2 separate regions of the Homo sapiens genome follow, and region 1 is linked to region 2. The links come from fine-mapping of genetic effects on gene expression. Tissue or cell type: fibroblasts. Region 2 holds a variant in brackets; the other region holds the start of a gene. All regions are shown on one strand. Distances are between the middles of the regions.

Region 1 (8,168 bases), 89 kb after region 2:
ACCCCTGGGTCTGAGGGGTAATGGCACTGGGATCCACCATCTTGTCTCACTGCCGCCTGAGATGCAGACAGGGCTTCTGTTTTTAAGTCTCCATTAAATGTTTCTTTTTGAGAAACGTTAATGTGTCAGCCTCTTTCTTTAGCCTCTCAGCTTCCTTAGACTTTGGAGCGTAGGTCTGTATAGTCCTGCTTACCTTGAAATAGATGGGTTAGGGAGAAGGAACACCAGGGAGACGTTCGAATTATTTCACCTAAAAATGTAGAGAAGTTTTGTGAAACAGTGCTTAATTAATAAAAAGGTATTTCTTGAGAGATGGTTCTATTCCTACTACTGGCAAAAATGTAGATGAAAGATTGTTTGGCATGATGCCAAATATTACCCTATAAATTACTTCCTAATTGCAAAGGGAAAACTATAACTTTACCATAGAAAGAACTGTCTGTCAATAATCAAATGATCAAATAGCATTGTCAACAAAGAGTCAAACTTTGTAAAATATTTGAAGAGATTTATTCCGAGCCAAATATGAGTGATCATGGCCCACGACACAGTCCTTGGGAGATCCTGAGAACATGTGCTCAGGGTGGTTGGGGTGCAGGTTGGTTTTATATATTTTAGGGAAATATGAGACTTCAATCAAATACATTTAAGAAATACATTGGTTCAGTTCAGAAAGACAGGACAACTTGAAGCAGGGGTGGAGCTGGGGGGGTAGGCGGGGGGAGGTTCCAGGTTATAGGCAGATTTAAACATTTTCTGGCTGACACTTGGTTAAGTTTATCTAAAGACCTGGAACCAACAGAAAGGAAATGTCTGGGTTAAGATTAAAGGATTGTGGAGACCAAAGTTCTTATTGTGCAAAGGAAGCCTTCAGGTGAGAACAGAAAAGCATTCTGTTATCTCTCTCCTTCAGAGAGAAGAGATTGTAAATGTTTCTTATCAGACTTAAGGTCTGTGTTGATGTTAACATCACTGAGGTATAAAGAGGCATGTCCAACCCCCACTTCCCATCATGGCCTGAAGTAGTCTTTCAGGTTAAATTTAAATTTTAGAGTGCCCTAGCCTACGAGAAAGTCCATTCAGATAGTTGGGGGGAATTTAGAATTTTGTTTTTGGTTTACAGCAAGCTTGTCCAACCTGCTGCCCACAGACCACATGCAACCCACAGGCCACATGCAGCTCAGGACAGCTTTGCATGCAGCCCAACATAAATTTGTAAGCTTTCTTAAAACGTTATGAAATTTTCTTGCGTTTTTGTTTTGGTTTGTAGCTTATCAGTTAACATTAGTGTTAGTGTATTTTATGTATAGCCCAAGACAATTCTTTTTCTTCCAGTGTGGCCCAGGGAAGCCAAAAGATTGGACACTGCTGGCTTACACCATCACCAATAGTGGGACAAATCTGATATTAAATGCCTCCTAATGTAATACAATATTAACTACACAGTATGACCTTTGAAGTATCCTTATCCAATGTTTAATCTGAACTCCTCAAGCCTCTGGTAACTTGCAACTGATAGGAAATACAAAATCTAGAGGTACAAAATAAATAAAATCGGACAATCCAGCATTAGGGCATTCTTCATGACAACTGCTTGGTATCTTAAATTTGTTTAAAAAGACAGTTATTATTGGGAAAAATGAATTAGATTAAAAGCTTTAGATTAAAAGAAGCCAAAGAAAGTTAAAGCCCAACTTCAATGGGCAATCATTCATAGGATCCTGGTTCAAAAACAAACTATTTACAAAAGGTATTCTGGAGACAACTGGACAACTGGAGAAATGTAAATATTCTCTGGACCTTAAATAATAGTAGCGAATAATTGTTAATTTTCATTGATGTGATAAAGGTTTTATAGGAAATGGTTATATAGGAAAATGTCCTTGTAGGAGACATATAGCTAAAGTATTCTGAACTGAAGTGTCTTATCTACAACCTACAGATCTGAGAAAAATAAAACCAACAACCAAAACACACACACATAGGTACACATATAAATATATAAATAAATATGGAAAAATATTTGAATCTAGGTGATAATGATATTGAGAAGAAATTACTCAGGCCGATAGTACGAGTATGGGAGTCCTCAGTGTAAAAAGTGAAGTAGAGGTTCCTCTTCAAATGGACTTTCCTTTCCGTCTAATTAGGAATAAACAGTAACTTCTCTTAAAAGCAAAATTTATTCAAAGAACTGTGCTAACATATTGGAGGCCGAAACAATGAGGTTCGTGATCAACTCAGTATATCACTGGAGGCTATATGAGTAAGCAGCAAACTGTTTCTCATAAATGCAGAACGTTGGCGAACTGACAAACTGCGTATGCCACCCAGGAGGACTGCTGAGGGTAGTTACGATCTAGGCACAAATGTTTCTTATGATTAGGCATAATTGAAGCCTGTCAGTAACAATATGAACCTGTGATCAATTAAGCAGCTGACCAATCGTTACCACCTCCTCCCTGCTCCTGTTACCCAAAAAATAGGAAGGGCTGTGGAAGCTCTGTGGCTGCCTTTGCTCACGAGAAGCAGGGAGCTCTCTTCTTCTTCCCCTGGCCCTTTCCTTAAAACAGTTCCTTTTGTCTTAAGTTATCATTTCTACGTTCGTCCCTTCATTTGATCTCACAATGATGGTCTCAAGCAGTAACAGTAGTAACTGCTGTAACGATGGTCTCAAGTAGTAACCGTGGCAGTTGGCCACACTAACATTCTTTGATATCTGTTGGCCGTAATAAAGAAATCAATGTACTTTGTGCTCTTAGCTGCCACATTTTAGCCTAGATATTTGCCCTGGCATGCTTATACTGGTCCAAGGAAGCATTAGGCCATAGCCTGTTTTCTTCCTTATCTGGAGGTGTTTTTACCTTTCTCAGCATTCCACAAGTTGCTTCCTCCTTCCTTTGTTCTCCTCTGTCTTTGCCTCTTTTGGAAAGTTCTAAGTTGCTAGCCAATCAGGACAAGTACAGAGGTCCCCTTCCAGCCAATGGAAACCGGACACGGTAGTAGGGTGCACGTGTCAGGTTATAAATGACCCTGTCTCCTTTATGCGTGTGTGCTCTCGTGGCAAGACTACTAGCGAGCGGCAACCTTTCTGCAGAAAGTAAACTAGCCTTGCTAAGAGCTCCTTTGTCTCAGTGTTGATTTTTGCAACACTGAGCGCCCGTTCCCAACATCAGTAAGGCTTTTCTTTTTAATGAAAAGCAGCCCCAAATCCTTTTCTAAGAGCAGCCTGTGAAGTCGAGCTGCAGGCACAGACAAACAAGGGGGTAGCTTGCTTGGGTGAATGGTGGCAGGAACTACCGACTAGACATGTTTAAGATGAGGGCTCCATCTTCGCTTCTCTGCCAGCCACGTGTACAGTAAGAAGGGGTTACAATAGGCATATGGGTGATTTTGTGCTTTTCGTTCATCTTTTCTGTGTTTAAAATGTTCAGAATAAGAAATTGGAACAAAGGAGACATGAATAGACAATTCCTAATCATCTTTAAGAGTCCGCTTTGTGTTTTACTTACCACCACCACTTTGAAGGCTTTCTTGCCTATACCAGGACAAACTCAGCTCTTTATCCCTTTTCCGAATTTTCCTGGTACTTTCACTTTGAATATAGCGCTTAATTAACATTCTGCCTTGTACCTAGGACTAACACACTATAAATTCCCAGAAGACAAAGTAGGGGAATACAATAACAGGATATAGAATTTTAACAGCTAAATTAGATGAATTTATGGGTGACCTTTATTGGGCAAAAGAAAATGTTAAGTTAGTATAAGATTTAGTATAAGCTACCATCTCAAAACTCAGGGTCTCACTGGAAGAGAAAGTGACTCCAGGTAGAATTCCTCAGGGAGACATTCACTTCCATCATTCGCTGAACCAGGAGCTTTGGACAGCCTCGGATTGCACCCGCATATCCAAGGACACCACATCAGCGGACAAGTCATAAACAGCCTTGGGAATACGCGGAAAGGTCAAATTTACCTAAACAATTAAATTCTCTTTTAAATTTTAAGGAAACACAAGTATGCTTTCGCTTTAGGTAGGGCATTTGAGAGCAAAATGTACTAATACTTTGAATCCGCCAAGCAGACACGATCTGGGTTTGACCGTTCTCTCCGGGTAAAGGTGAAGGCTGACCACGGGGGCCGCTCTCCCTCCAGGCCCCAGCCACGCCCTCTAACCCAGGTTCCCGTCCTGCACCGCGCCGCAAGTCCCCCCACCGTTCAGCGCAACCGGGCCCTCCCAGCCCCGCCGCCGTCCCCCTCCCCCGCCCTGGCTCTCTTTCCGCGCTGCGGTCAGCCTCGGCGTCCCACAGAGAGGGCCAGAGGTGGAAACGCAGAAAACCAAACCAGGACTATCAGAGATTGCCCGGAGAGGGGATGCGACCCCTCCCCAGGTCGCAGCGACGGCGCACGCAAGGGTCACGGAGCATGCGTTGGCTACCCGGCGCCGGGGACCGCTGCCACCCCGCCTAGCGCAGCGCCCCGTCCTTCCGCAGCCCAACCGCCTCTTCCCGCCCCGCCCCATCCCGCCCACGGGCTCCAGTGGGCGGGACCAGAGGAGTCCCGCGTTCGGGGAGTATGTCAAGGCCGTGACCCGTGTATTATTGTCCGAGTGGCCGGAACGGGAGCCAACATGGCAGCGGGGTTCGGGCGATGCTGCAGGGTGAGAGGGAGCCCAGCGGTGCGGTGGGGCTGGAACATGGGTATTGTGGTGTCGGAGCAGGGGGCCCTGGGCCAAAAATAGGTGCGGCCGGGAGGAGTGGGAAGTCGGGCTGAGGAAGGAGCCAGCCTAGGGGCCCCCAACCTGCTTTCACGCCTCCTACCACCGGACGGAACGTAGCCTAGCGTTTCATTTTCCGTATCCTCCCGTCAGGCGACCCCGTTATAGCCGGCATCCTCTCTTTAGAATATCGTTTTTCTTTCTCTGGTAAACCCTCCAAATATTTACCGCGGGAATCCCACCTTTTTCCAAAGTGACCCCGTCTCTGTGTCAGAACCACGGGAAAAAGAAAAATGGAGCAGCTACTCCTTGAAATACTTAATGTTTAATAAGCTTTTCGTTGTAACGTTTCCACGTTGCTTACGGGAAAAAAAAAAGTAAAAAAAAAACCTGCAGAATTTTATGTGAACTTGTGTGTATATTCTAGTATTGGATCTTAATAGATTCTAAATAAGTTTGTCACTAGATGAATTTTGGTATCTTAAATATTCTTGATATGTTCACACCACTGCCATTTAGATGTCACTTAAAATTAAGTTAAAGTTATGTCTTGGACCAAAAAAGCTGCGGTTTTAGAATAATCCTAAAGAATTGCTGCCCATGTTTTGCTGGTGTTATGCAAGTTAATGTGCAGTGAAGGCAGAAATTGGGAGATTTCAGCTATTTTTAACTCCTACACCAGAAAAGCAGATTTCTCAACCTCCAAGGAAGGATCTAAAAAAAACCTGATATAGAAAACTTACACCCTTTTTCTCTTCTTTAACCCATAAAACTGACACTCTTATATTCCCAAGAAATGCACAAAAGTGTTCAATTCTAGTGGTGCTGTTTCGATATTTGGAATTTCATTGTTCTAGACAGAGAGCCCGAAGTAATAAAACCAATAGTTATATAGCATTAGGCTTTCAAAACATTATCGTACTTTAATCGTCCGAAAATACGCAGTGAGATTAGTCCCATTTTTTGGTTTTGAACGGAAGCTATAAGCAGTTTGTAAACCTGTCTACGGCCACAAATATGGTTGTGGAACCTAGATTCACATTCAGCAATTATAACTCCAGATCCCGTGCTGTTTCTGTTTTCTATTTGCAAACCACCTCTCTAATTAACTGGCTAACTTTGTTATGTAATTAACAGGTTGATGGGCATTGTATTCTGGTAATAGCAACCTTTGCACTTTGTTCTATGTAACATATTTTCCTGAACAGTCACATGTGAAGTGACTTTTTCCCTATTTAAATTCCCTCGGTTGGCCAGGTGCGGCGGCTCACGGTTGTGATCCTAGCACCTTGGGAGGCCTCGGCGGGTTGATCACTTAAGGCCAGGAGTTCGAGACCAGCCTGGCCAAAGCAGGGAAACCCTGTCTTTACTAAAAATAGGAAAAATTAGCTGGGCATGGTAGCATATGCCTGTAATCCCAGGAGGCTGAGTCTGCAGTGAGCGGAGATCTCTCCACCGCACTCTAGCCTGGGTGACAGAGGGAGACTCTGTCAAAAAAAAAAAAAAGTCCCTCAGTAGACCATTTAACCTGGTTTGAGTTCTGACTTTTGTGCATGGTATTTAAAAACGCATTTATAATAGAGTCAGGTTTTTTGTTCTGATTTTTGTGGAATGTTTTCCTTTGTTATGGAACCTAGTGACCAATTAGGATACTAACAGAAAGATCAGTATAGCAAGGTGGTTAATAGCATGCGCTCTTGATAGTAAATGTTAGAATCCTGGTTGCACTAATAGTAGAGTGACTTTGCCTAATTTAGTTGACTTTCTGAGCCTTCGTTTCTTCACATGCGAAAGTGGAATAAAAGTAATGGCTTAATCCTAGACTTGACCTGGGATTCAGTGAATTAACCTGTGTAACGCGACTGTAAATCAGAGTAGATTTGGTCTGTGACTGCTGGACAATAAGCACCAGAGAAACTGTTTCACTTTTTTTTTTTTTTTTTTTTTTGAGACGGAGTCTTGCTCTGTCACCCAGGCTGGAATGCAATGGTGCAGTCTAGGCTCACTGCAACCTCCGCCTTCCGGGTTCAAGCGATTCTCCTGCCTCAGCGTCCCGAGTAGCTGGGACTACAGGTGCGTGCCACCACACCTGGCTAATTTTTGTATTTTTAGTAGAAATGGGGTTTCACCATGTTGGTCAGGCTGGTCTCAAACCCCTGACCTCGTGATCCGCCCACCTCAGCCTCCCAAAGTGCTGGGATTACACGCATGAGCCACCCCACCTGGCACTGTTTCACTTTCAAAATAAAATTAATGAAGATGCAAAGAAAATGCGAGTTTTCATACTCTGTATGTTTTTATTACTGTAGTATGAGGTATGTTATTTGGAAAGCACTGTTTCAATTACAAATATTTGACACTCTTAATTATATTGTCACCTTACATGTAGGAATTCGTCTTTTATAAGTTGAAATTGTCATCTACAAAGACAGTTTCTTTTTACGGATTTTGAAAAACATAAGAATTTAAATAAAGAAACTTTAGTATATTCTTCAGCTGCTCTTTTCTCTTAGTATCTAAGCTTGTTAAAATTGCTGGATAGTTCAATTAAAATCTTTTACAGTGAAAATTGTGTAATTTTGACTGTCCTGAAACCTTTACTCAAGAACACCATTGTGGTTCCCAGTTTGGCAGCTTTAATAAATGCAAATTTTTACTTTTGTATCCATTAAACTGTCATGAATATAAAAATGGGTTGCAAAACAATAATATATGTATATTTGATTGTTTGTTTCTTTATATGTTCCTTTGAAGAAATATGACTATATTTCAGATCCTAAGACAAGTAGTGTATTAGTAGTTTAGAAGAGGGATGGCAAACGTGTTTGTAAAGGAACGGATAGTACATGTTTTTGGCTTTGTGAACCAGATGGTCTCTGTGGTAACTACTTAGATCTGCTGTGAAAGCGGCAATAGACAGCATGATGTGGCTGCACTGGTTTGGTGACTCCTTGCTCAGAACATTGTAAGAATCCCTGTAGACAGCAGAAAATACAGAACATGGTTTTATGCTAATTTGTTTTGTTAGAGTGGGGTATCCTAAAAAATGAGATCCTCTGAGGGGAAGGTTTCCAGAGGCATGCATGGGAGGCTCACAGTGACAGGGTATCAAAGTTGATGGACTAGGCAACTCTTGAACACAGTATGTTCACTTCCAGCCTATCGTTCTCCCCACCCCAACTCTCCAACCATTAATGTCCTAGGAGCTTGTAAGATACCCAGAATAGTGGTCCTACATCTACTACTACCCTTGACTGTTGTTTGTCCTAAACCCTCCACTTCAGTAGTATAAATACCACTGACTTTATTTTCATTACTTTTTAAAAACATCTCCTCTGTAATAGGAATTTATATAACTGATAATTGGCTTATTTAAATTATGATTGAAGGCATTTAAATAGTGATGACTTTAAAAACTATGAGTATGGTCAAACCAGTTGCTGTACTCA
Region 2 (8,206 bases):
GACTCGCTGTCTTTCAGGTCCCCAACTATGTCAATACTCAGAAACAACTTAGAACACCAACAGAAGGCATTAAGTCGCCTATCCGGGGAGCCATATTCTTCAGGGTCTGAAATTCTTGCTGTGCCAGCACTGAGGCAATTTCCACTTCTCCGAGCATGCTCTGCAGTGTCTATTTAGGGTATTTGTACCATCAAAAAATACATCCACTTCTCCATCAGAGGCTGGTACTTAAGGTGGGTGAAATGTAAAACACTGTCAATTTCTCACCAAATAAATCTCTTTCTCTTCAACCTCAACTTCTTATGTAGACTAGAGAGGAGTGAATCACTGCAGCTGGCAGAACTAGTTTAGAACCTTGACCTTTGAAAGTTCAACATGAATGGTCTGGTTCCTCTCTTTAGAATGGGAAACATATTGTTTTGTTGTTAACTTTTCCAACAGTGCATCTTGTTGTCTACCATATCCTTTCTTGTATTATTACTGCTAGGGTATCTGTGACTTCCCTAAGACAGAGACAATATCACTCCTTTTTTTGGAGACAGGGTCTCACTCTGTCACTTAGACTGGAGTGCAGCAGCCTAATCTCATCTCACTGCAACCTCCACCTCCTGGGCTCAAGCCATCCTCTCACTTCTGTCTCCCAAGTAGCTGGGACTATAGGCATGCACAACCACACCTGGCTAATTTTTTTTTTTTTTTTTTTTTTTTTGAGACAGAGTTTTGCTCTGTCACCCAGGCTGGAGTGCAATGTCGCAATCTCAGCTCACTGTAAACTCTGCCTCCCGATTCTCCTGCCTCAGCCTCCCGAGTAGCTGGGATTACAGGCACACTCCACTGCGCCCAGCTAATTTTTGTATTTTTAGTAGAGACGGCGTTTCACCATGTTGGCCAGGCCAGTCTTGAACTCCTGACCTCAGGTGATCCACCTGCCTTGGCCCCCCAAAGCGCTGGGATTACAGACATGAGCCACTGCGCCCAGCCAATTTTTGTATTTTTTGTAGAGTTTTTGCCATGTTGCCCAGGCTGGCCTCAAGCTCCTGAGCTCAAACAATCTGCCAGCCTTGGCCTCCCAAAGTGCTGGATTACATGGATGAGCCACCCTGCCTGGACAGTATCACTCATCCTTATTTTCTCTGCAGTGCCTGGAGTCACTGACGACAAATCATAAGCACTTGGGAAATTTAATTTTAAGGAGAAGCCAACTTTTCCCTTCCTGTGCACATATTACCCACCCTTCAGTCCTGGATAAGGCTACCTTTTCCATGAAGAATTCCCTTCTATTTCAGCCCCATTATTTTCTCCGTGTCTCTGAACTCTGAAACTTTGTTCATATGATGCTTATGTCATCATGTAAATTTTTCTTTACCTTGCCTCTTCAGTACAGACTTGAGCTCTTTATGGATCATCTTATACTTACTTCTTTAGAGACATTCTTATAAAATATTCAATAAATATTGAAACAAATGCTGTGCTAACTCAGATAAAAAAATCATCTCAGCTATATGTATTTCAGAAGGAGCTACTTCTTTTTTTTTTTGCTTGTGTTGTGTAACATTAAACTAAAAATAATTCAAACAAGGATCATCCTGAAATGTTAGAGCAAGAGAGAACTTTAGAGATGATCAGTTCCACACAGTTTACTCCATTGTAATGAAGTGGCATCTTACAAATGCTGCCTCCCTTCACCCTCTGCTGACCATTCTAGAAACTGCACCTTTTAAAATCTCATTGCAGAATGACTATCATTCCTGTTTTTCCATGCTCCTGAAATTGTTTTTCAAGAGTCAGGTTTAAATGTGTTCTATATAATGGCACTTGTTCACGCTCCAGAAAAACTAAGACTCTATTACCCACAGGGAATATTTGAGCACTTGAGTTCTAGAGCCAAATTGCTTATGTTCATAAGTTAGTCCTTCTGCTTCTGGCTCAGACAAGTTACCTAACATCTCTGCTGATCAGTTTCTGATCTAAAAAATAAAAACAACAATAATAATGGTGATCTTTAAAAGTTGCTGTGAGGCTAAATCAATTAGTGTCTGCAAAACACTTAAAACAGTTCCCGAAAACAGCAAGCCCTCATTATTATTTGGTGGTGCTGGTAGTAGTTGTGATTAATAACTTTTATACCAATGACAAATATTTCTTGTTTGTTCATTTTAGCAGGCTAAACTGGAAAAGCTATACACACACTCTGATCTATTCATCTTTAAATCCCTAGTATTCAGCATGGTGTCTGGGACATAGTAATTACTCAACAAATGTTTGTTGAATAAAGTTTATAAATAATATGATTACTTAAAATGCAAGCTCTTTGTTCTTTTGGCTTAGGATTGGCTTGGCGATGCGGGCTCTTTTTTGGTTCCATATGAACTTTAAAGTAGTTTTTTCCAATTCTGTGAAGAAAGGCATTCGTAGCTTGATGGGGATGGCATTGCATCTATAAATTACCTTGGGCAGTATGGCCATTTTCACGACATTGATTCTTCCTACCCATGAGCATGGAATGTTCTTCCATTTCTTTGTATCCTCTTTTATTTCATTGAGCAGTGGTTTGTAGTTCTCCTTGAAGAGGTCCTTCATGTCCCTTGTAAAGTGGATTCCTAGGTATTTTATTCTCTTTGAAGCAATTGCGAATGGGAGTTTACTCATGATTTGGCTCTCTGTATGTCTGTTATTGGTGTATAAGAATGCTTGTGATTTTTGCACATTGATTTTGTATCCTGAGACTTTGCTGAAGTTGCCTATCAGCTTAAGGAGATTTTGGGCTGAGACAATGGGGTTTTCTAGATATACAATCATGTCATCTGCAAACAGGGACAATTTGACTTCCTCTTTTCCTAATTGAATACCCTTTATTTCCTTCTCCTGCCTAATTGCCCTGGCCAGAACTTCCAACACTATGTTGAATAGGAGTGGTGAGAGAGGGCATCCCTGTCTTGTGCCAGTTTTCAAAGGGAATGCTTCCAGTCTTTGCCCATTCAGTATGATATTGGCTGTGGGTTTGTCACAGATAGCTCTTATTATTTTGAGATATGTCCCATCAATACCTAATTTATTGAGAGTTCTTAGCATGAAGCATTGTTGAATTTTGTCAAAGGCCTTTTCTGCATCTATTGAGATAATCATGTGGTTTTTGTCTTTGGTTCTGTTTATATGCTGGATTACATTTATTGATTTGC[G/A]TATATTGAACCAGCCTTGCATCCCAGGGATGAAGCCCAGTTGATCATGGTGGATAAGCTTTTTGATGTGCTGCTGGATTCGCTTTGCCAGTATTTTATGGAGTATTTTTGCATCAATGTTCATCAAGGATATTGGTCTAAAATTCTCTTTTTTGGTTGTGTCTCTGCCCGGCTTTGGTATCAGGATGATGCTGGCCTCCTCAAATGAGTTAGGGAGGATTCCCTCTTTTTCTATTGATTGGAATAGTTTCAGAAGGAATGGTACCAGTTCCTCCTTGTACCTCTGGTAGAATTCGGCTGTGAATCCAACTGGTCCTGGACTCTTTTTGGTTGGTAAGCTATTAAGCTGGAGGCATCACGCTACCTGACTTCAAACTATACTACAAGGCTACAGTAACCAAAACAGCATGGTACTGGTACCAAAACAGAGATATAGATCAATGGAACAGAACAGAGCCCTCAGAAATAACGCCGCATATCTACAACTATCTGATCTTTGACAAACCTGAGAAAAACAAGCAATGGGGAAAGGATTCCCTATTTAATAAATGGTGCTGGGAAAACTGGCTAGACATATGTAGAAAGCTGAAACTGGATCCCTTCCTTACACCTTATACAAAAATGAATTCAAGATGGATTAAAGACTTAAATGTTAGACCTAAAACCATAAAAACCCTAGAAGAAAACCTAGGCATTACCATTCAGGACATAGGCATGGGCAAGGACTTCATGTCTAAAACACCAAAAGCAATGGCAACAAAAGACAAAATTGATAAATGGGATCTAATTAAAGAGCTTCTGCACAGCAAAAGAAACTACCATCAGAGTGAACAGGCAACCTACAAAGTGGGAGAAAATTTTCGCAACTTACTCATCTGACAAAGGGCTAATATCTAGAATCTACAATGAACTCAAACACATTTACAAGAAAAAAACAAACAACCCCATCAAAAAGTGGGCGAAGGATATGAACAGACATTTCTCAAAAGAAGACATTTATGCAGCCAACAGACACATGAAAAAATGCTCACCATCACTGGCCATCAGAGAAATGCAAATCAAAACCACAATGAGATACCATCTCACACTAGTTAGAATGGCAATCATTAAAAAGTCAGGAAACAACAGGTGCTGGAGAGGATGTGGAGAAATAGGAACACTTTTACACTGTTGGTGGGACTGTAAACTAGTTCAACCATTGTGGAAGTCAGTGTGGCGATTCCTCGGGGATCTAGAACTAGAAATACCATTTGACCCAGCCATCCCATTACTGGGTATATACCCAAAGGACTATAAATCATGATGCTATAAAGACACATGCACACGTATGTTTATTGTGGCACTATTCACAATAGCAAAGACTTGAAATCAACCCAAATGTCCAACAATGATAGACTGGATTAAGAAAATGTGGCACATATACACCATGGAATACTATGCAGCCATAAAAAATGATGAGTTCATGTCCTTTGTAGGGACATGGATGAAATTGGAAATCATTCTCAGTAAACTATTGCAAGGACAAATAACCAAACACCGCATGTTCTCACTCATAGGTGGGAATTGAACAATGAGAACACATGGACACAGGAAGGGGAACATCACACTCTGGGGACTGTTGTGGGGTGGGGGGAGGGGGGGAGGAATAGCATTAGGAGATACACCTAATGCTAAATGACGAGTTAATGGGTGCATCACACCAGCATGGCACATGTATACATATGTAACTAACCTGCACATTGTGCACATGTACCCTAAAACTTAAAGTATAATAATAATAAAAAAAAAATGCAAGCTCTGATTTACACTCAGTCCAAATCTTGACTCTGCCATTTAATAGGTATGAAACTTAACTTTGGGGAGGGATTATTTATGTATTTATTTTTAACTTGTTTAAATTTATGGGGTACAAGTGTAAATTTGTTACATTCATAGATCGTGTAATTGTAACGTCAAGGCTTCAGGGTATCCATCACCTGAATAACATACATTTTCCCCATTAAGTAATTCCTCATCATGCACCCCTGCCACACCCACCCATTCACCCCTCGGAGTCTCCTTTGCCTATCATTTCACTCTCTACATCCATGTTTACACATTTTTTAGCTTCCACGTATGAGTGAGAACATGCGATGTTAGGCTTTTTGTGTCTGGCTTGTGAAACTTAACTTTTCTGAACTGTTATCATATATATAAAATGATGGTGATTACAGCTCACACTTCCTAAGACTGTTATAAGAATTAAGATATTATATACAAGAAAAGCACTTACAATAAGATCTGGCACAGAGTAAACAATAAGTAAATGTTAGATAATATTATTTATAAAGATTTCCCAAAGTAATATTTATAAAGTATAAGCAGACTTGTAAGAGCATCTGACATACCTGAGTTTGAATTCTGACTCTACCATTTGCTAGATATAGGGATTTAAACATGATACTTAGCCTGTAAACCCAAAATCCTGATTTAGAATTCAGATAATACTACTTCCTTTCTGTTTTAAGAAGTAAATGAAATGGAGTGTATAAAACAACACTGTGCCTGAGGAACTGCAATCATTTAATAAATGACTAGTTTTGTTTTGCTGATGTAGTTCTTGTTTTTATTATTAGCTTTGCCAATAAGGAATTTTAATCCAGATAAGAAACAAAGAAATAAATAACTACAGTATAATGCAAGTAAATGTCATGGAAATAATAAAGTTAACAAATGCTTTGACAGTTTATGAGTAGGAATGATCAGTGTGAGCTGCAGTAATAAAGAATACTTTCTGAAACAGATAACATTTCTATAAAAGAAAATAGAGAATAGGTAGATATCCCAGGCAAAAAGAAGTATGACCTCAGGAAAGGTAAACCAAAGCACAAAAGCAGGAAGAACAAGGCTTATTTGAGCAGTAGAGAAAATGGGCACAATTAGTAGATTTATTATAAAGATATTCATCAAATTATTAATCCAGACCTGCACTGACCAATATGGTAATCATTAGCTGTATGTGACTAAAGAGTTCTCGAAATATGGCTAGCATAACTAAGGGACTGAATTTTTAATTTAACATAATTTTAACTAATTTAGATTTAGAAACTGAAACAGTTCATAGGAGCCAGCAACTCCATTCCTCAGTATATATTCAAAATAATTAAAAACAAAAACTCACACCAATACTTGCACAAAAATGTTCATTGCAGCACTATTCACAGTAGCCAAAAGGTGGAAACAACCCAAACATCCATCAATATATGAGTGGATAAGCAAAATGTGGTCTATACATGCTATGGGATATAATTCAGCCATAAAAAGAAATGATCCTGATACATGCCACAACACTGATGAACCTCAAAAAACATTATACTAAGTGAAATAAGCCAGACCCAAAAGGACAAAAATTGCACTTACATTAAGTATCTAGAATAGTCAAAGTCATAGAGAGAAGAAGTAGCGTAGAGGTTACCAGGGGCTAGTGGAAGTGAGGAATGGAGAGTTATTGCTTAATGGGTACAGAGTTTCTGTCTGGGTGATGAAGAGTGTTTGGAAATAATGGTATGGTTGTACAACACTGTGAATTTAGTTAATGACACTGAATTGCAACTGAAAAATGTTTAAAATGACAATATTTTTGGTGATATATATTTTATTACATTAAGAAATTAAGCAGAGTAAAATATTTTTCTGATAAACATATCTTCATTGTATTTAAAGTTTATCAATTCCGGGTCAAACTGGGGGAGTGGAGAAGACAAATTAAAAAATATTTTATTGGGAAAATTTATAAGAATTGAAACATGGGAATACCCACTATACACAGACATGCCTTTAAAAGGACTATCCATGAGATCCCCTTAAATTAGCCTCTTCCAAAAAGATATTAAAATAGTGCTTGAAATTTTAATTCAAAAGTATAGTGAATTTCTTTCCCTCTATTACCTAGTACCTCACTGATATAAATCCGCCTATGCAGTTGACATAGTTTTGCCAAATTATTGTATATTCTCTTGACCTTCCTTCTTAAAATATTTATTATAATTGTGTAATAATAGCTAACATTTACATGGCAATTGTTGTATTAACTCTTTTAATCCTCATGACATCTCTATGCAGTAAATATGATACAAAATAAAAAGACTTAAATAATATGACATCATTTATTGTCTTATTATAATATTAGAAGCTAATAGTACGATTAAAGCAAGTTTCATGTTTCAAGTATAGTGACTCTGATGGCCATCACTGCTCCAAAATCACACAAGTGAAACATAGAAGCATTTGTATGATTTAACATAGTAAGTAGAATCTAGTTTTAATAGCTATTTTATAACCTGAAATGTATTTATTCTTATAATAACAAACACAGTGTTAATATGTATTAAAGTTGTAGGATCTTAATATCAAAACAAAATGAAATAAAACCTGCAAGGAATCAGGAAAAGTTCAACACTGTCCCATGAGGATTTATAGTGAGGAAAGTGGTGCAGTCTAGGTTTAACTAAGGTAGGAAAGCCAACGAAAGAGCCCAGGCTGTGTTACACAGAGACAGCAATTGAATATACTCCACAGCTGAAATCATAAAGTTTCTCAAGCAACCCATTAATAATTAAATTTGCTTTCTCTGATAAATCTTGTCAGCCTGCTCCAAGGAAAACGGTCCTTCTTTCTTTGTAGTTTTCAGCCAATCAACTTGCCCATGGACAAAAAACAAAATTCATTATTTTTATGACTATACATAGCTTTCCACTATGTATATTTACCACATTTTCTTTATCCATTCCTTCATTTTCGACACTTAGATTCATTCCAATATCTTGGCTGTTGTGAATAGTGCTGCAATAAACATCAGAATGTAGATATCTTCTGCCAATTGCAACAATATGAATGAACCTGGAGGACACTGTGTTAAGTGAAATAAGCCAGGCACAGGAGCACAATTATCACATAATCTCACACGTATGTGGAATCTAAACAAGTTGATTCATGTAACTGGAGAGTAGATGAGTGATTTCCACGGGCTGAGGTGGATGGGGGGAAGA

Evidence for each region. PIP is the estimated chance that this variant, and not a neighbour inherited with it, causes the effect.
Region 1: ACADM starts here. The variant in region 2 is fine-mapped to the expression of ACADM in fibroblasts (GTEx, PIP above 0.99). The same link has a PIP of 0.9 or more in prefrontal cortex, testis and thyroid.

Annotation. Positions count from the first base shown.
Region 1 is chr1:75,720,156-75,728,323 of GRCh38, forward strand. ACADM (acyl-CoA dehydrogenase medium chain) reads left to right here and starts at 4,554. Exons shown (of 12, transcript NM_000016.6): 1 at 4,554-4,662. The coding sequence starts at 4,633. It also overlaps a transcript of SLC44A5 not described here. RefSeq lists enhancers at 1-207, 3,940-4,029, 4,680-4,769 and silencers at 4,400-4,449, 4,500-4,549.
Region 2 is chr1:75,630,856-75,639,061 of GRCh38, forward strand. It overlaps a transcript of SLC44A5 not described here. Among named protein-coding and RNA genes, the nearest start is that of SLC44A5, 24 kb to the left of the region's middle. The variant G/A (reference allele first, on the strand shown) is at 3,180.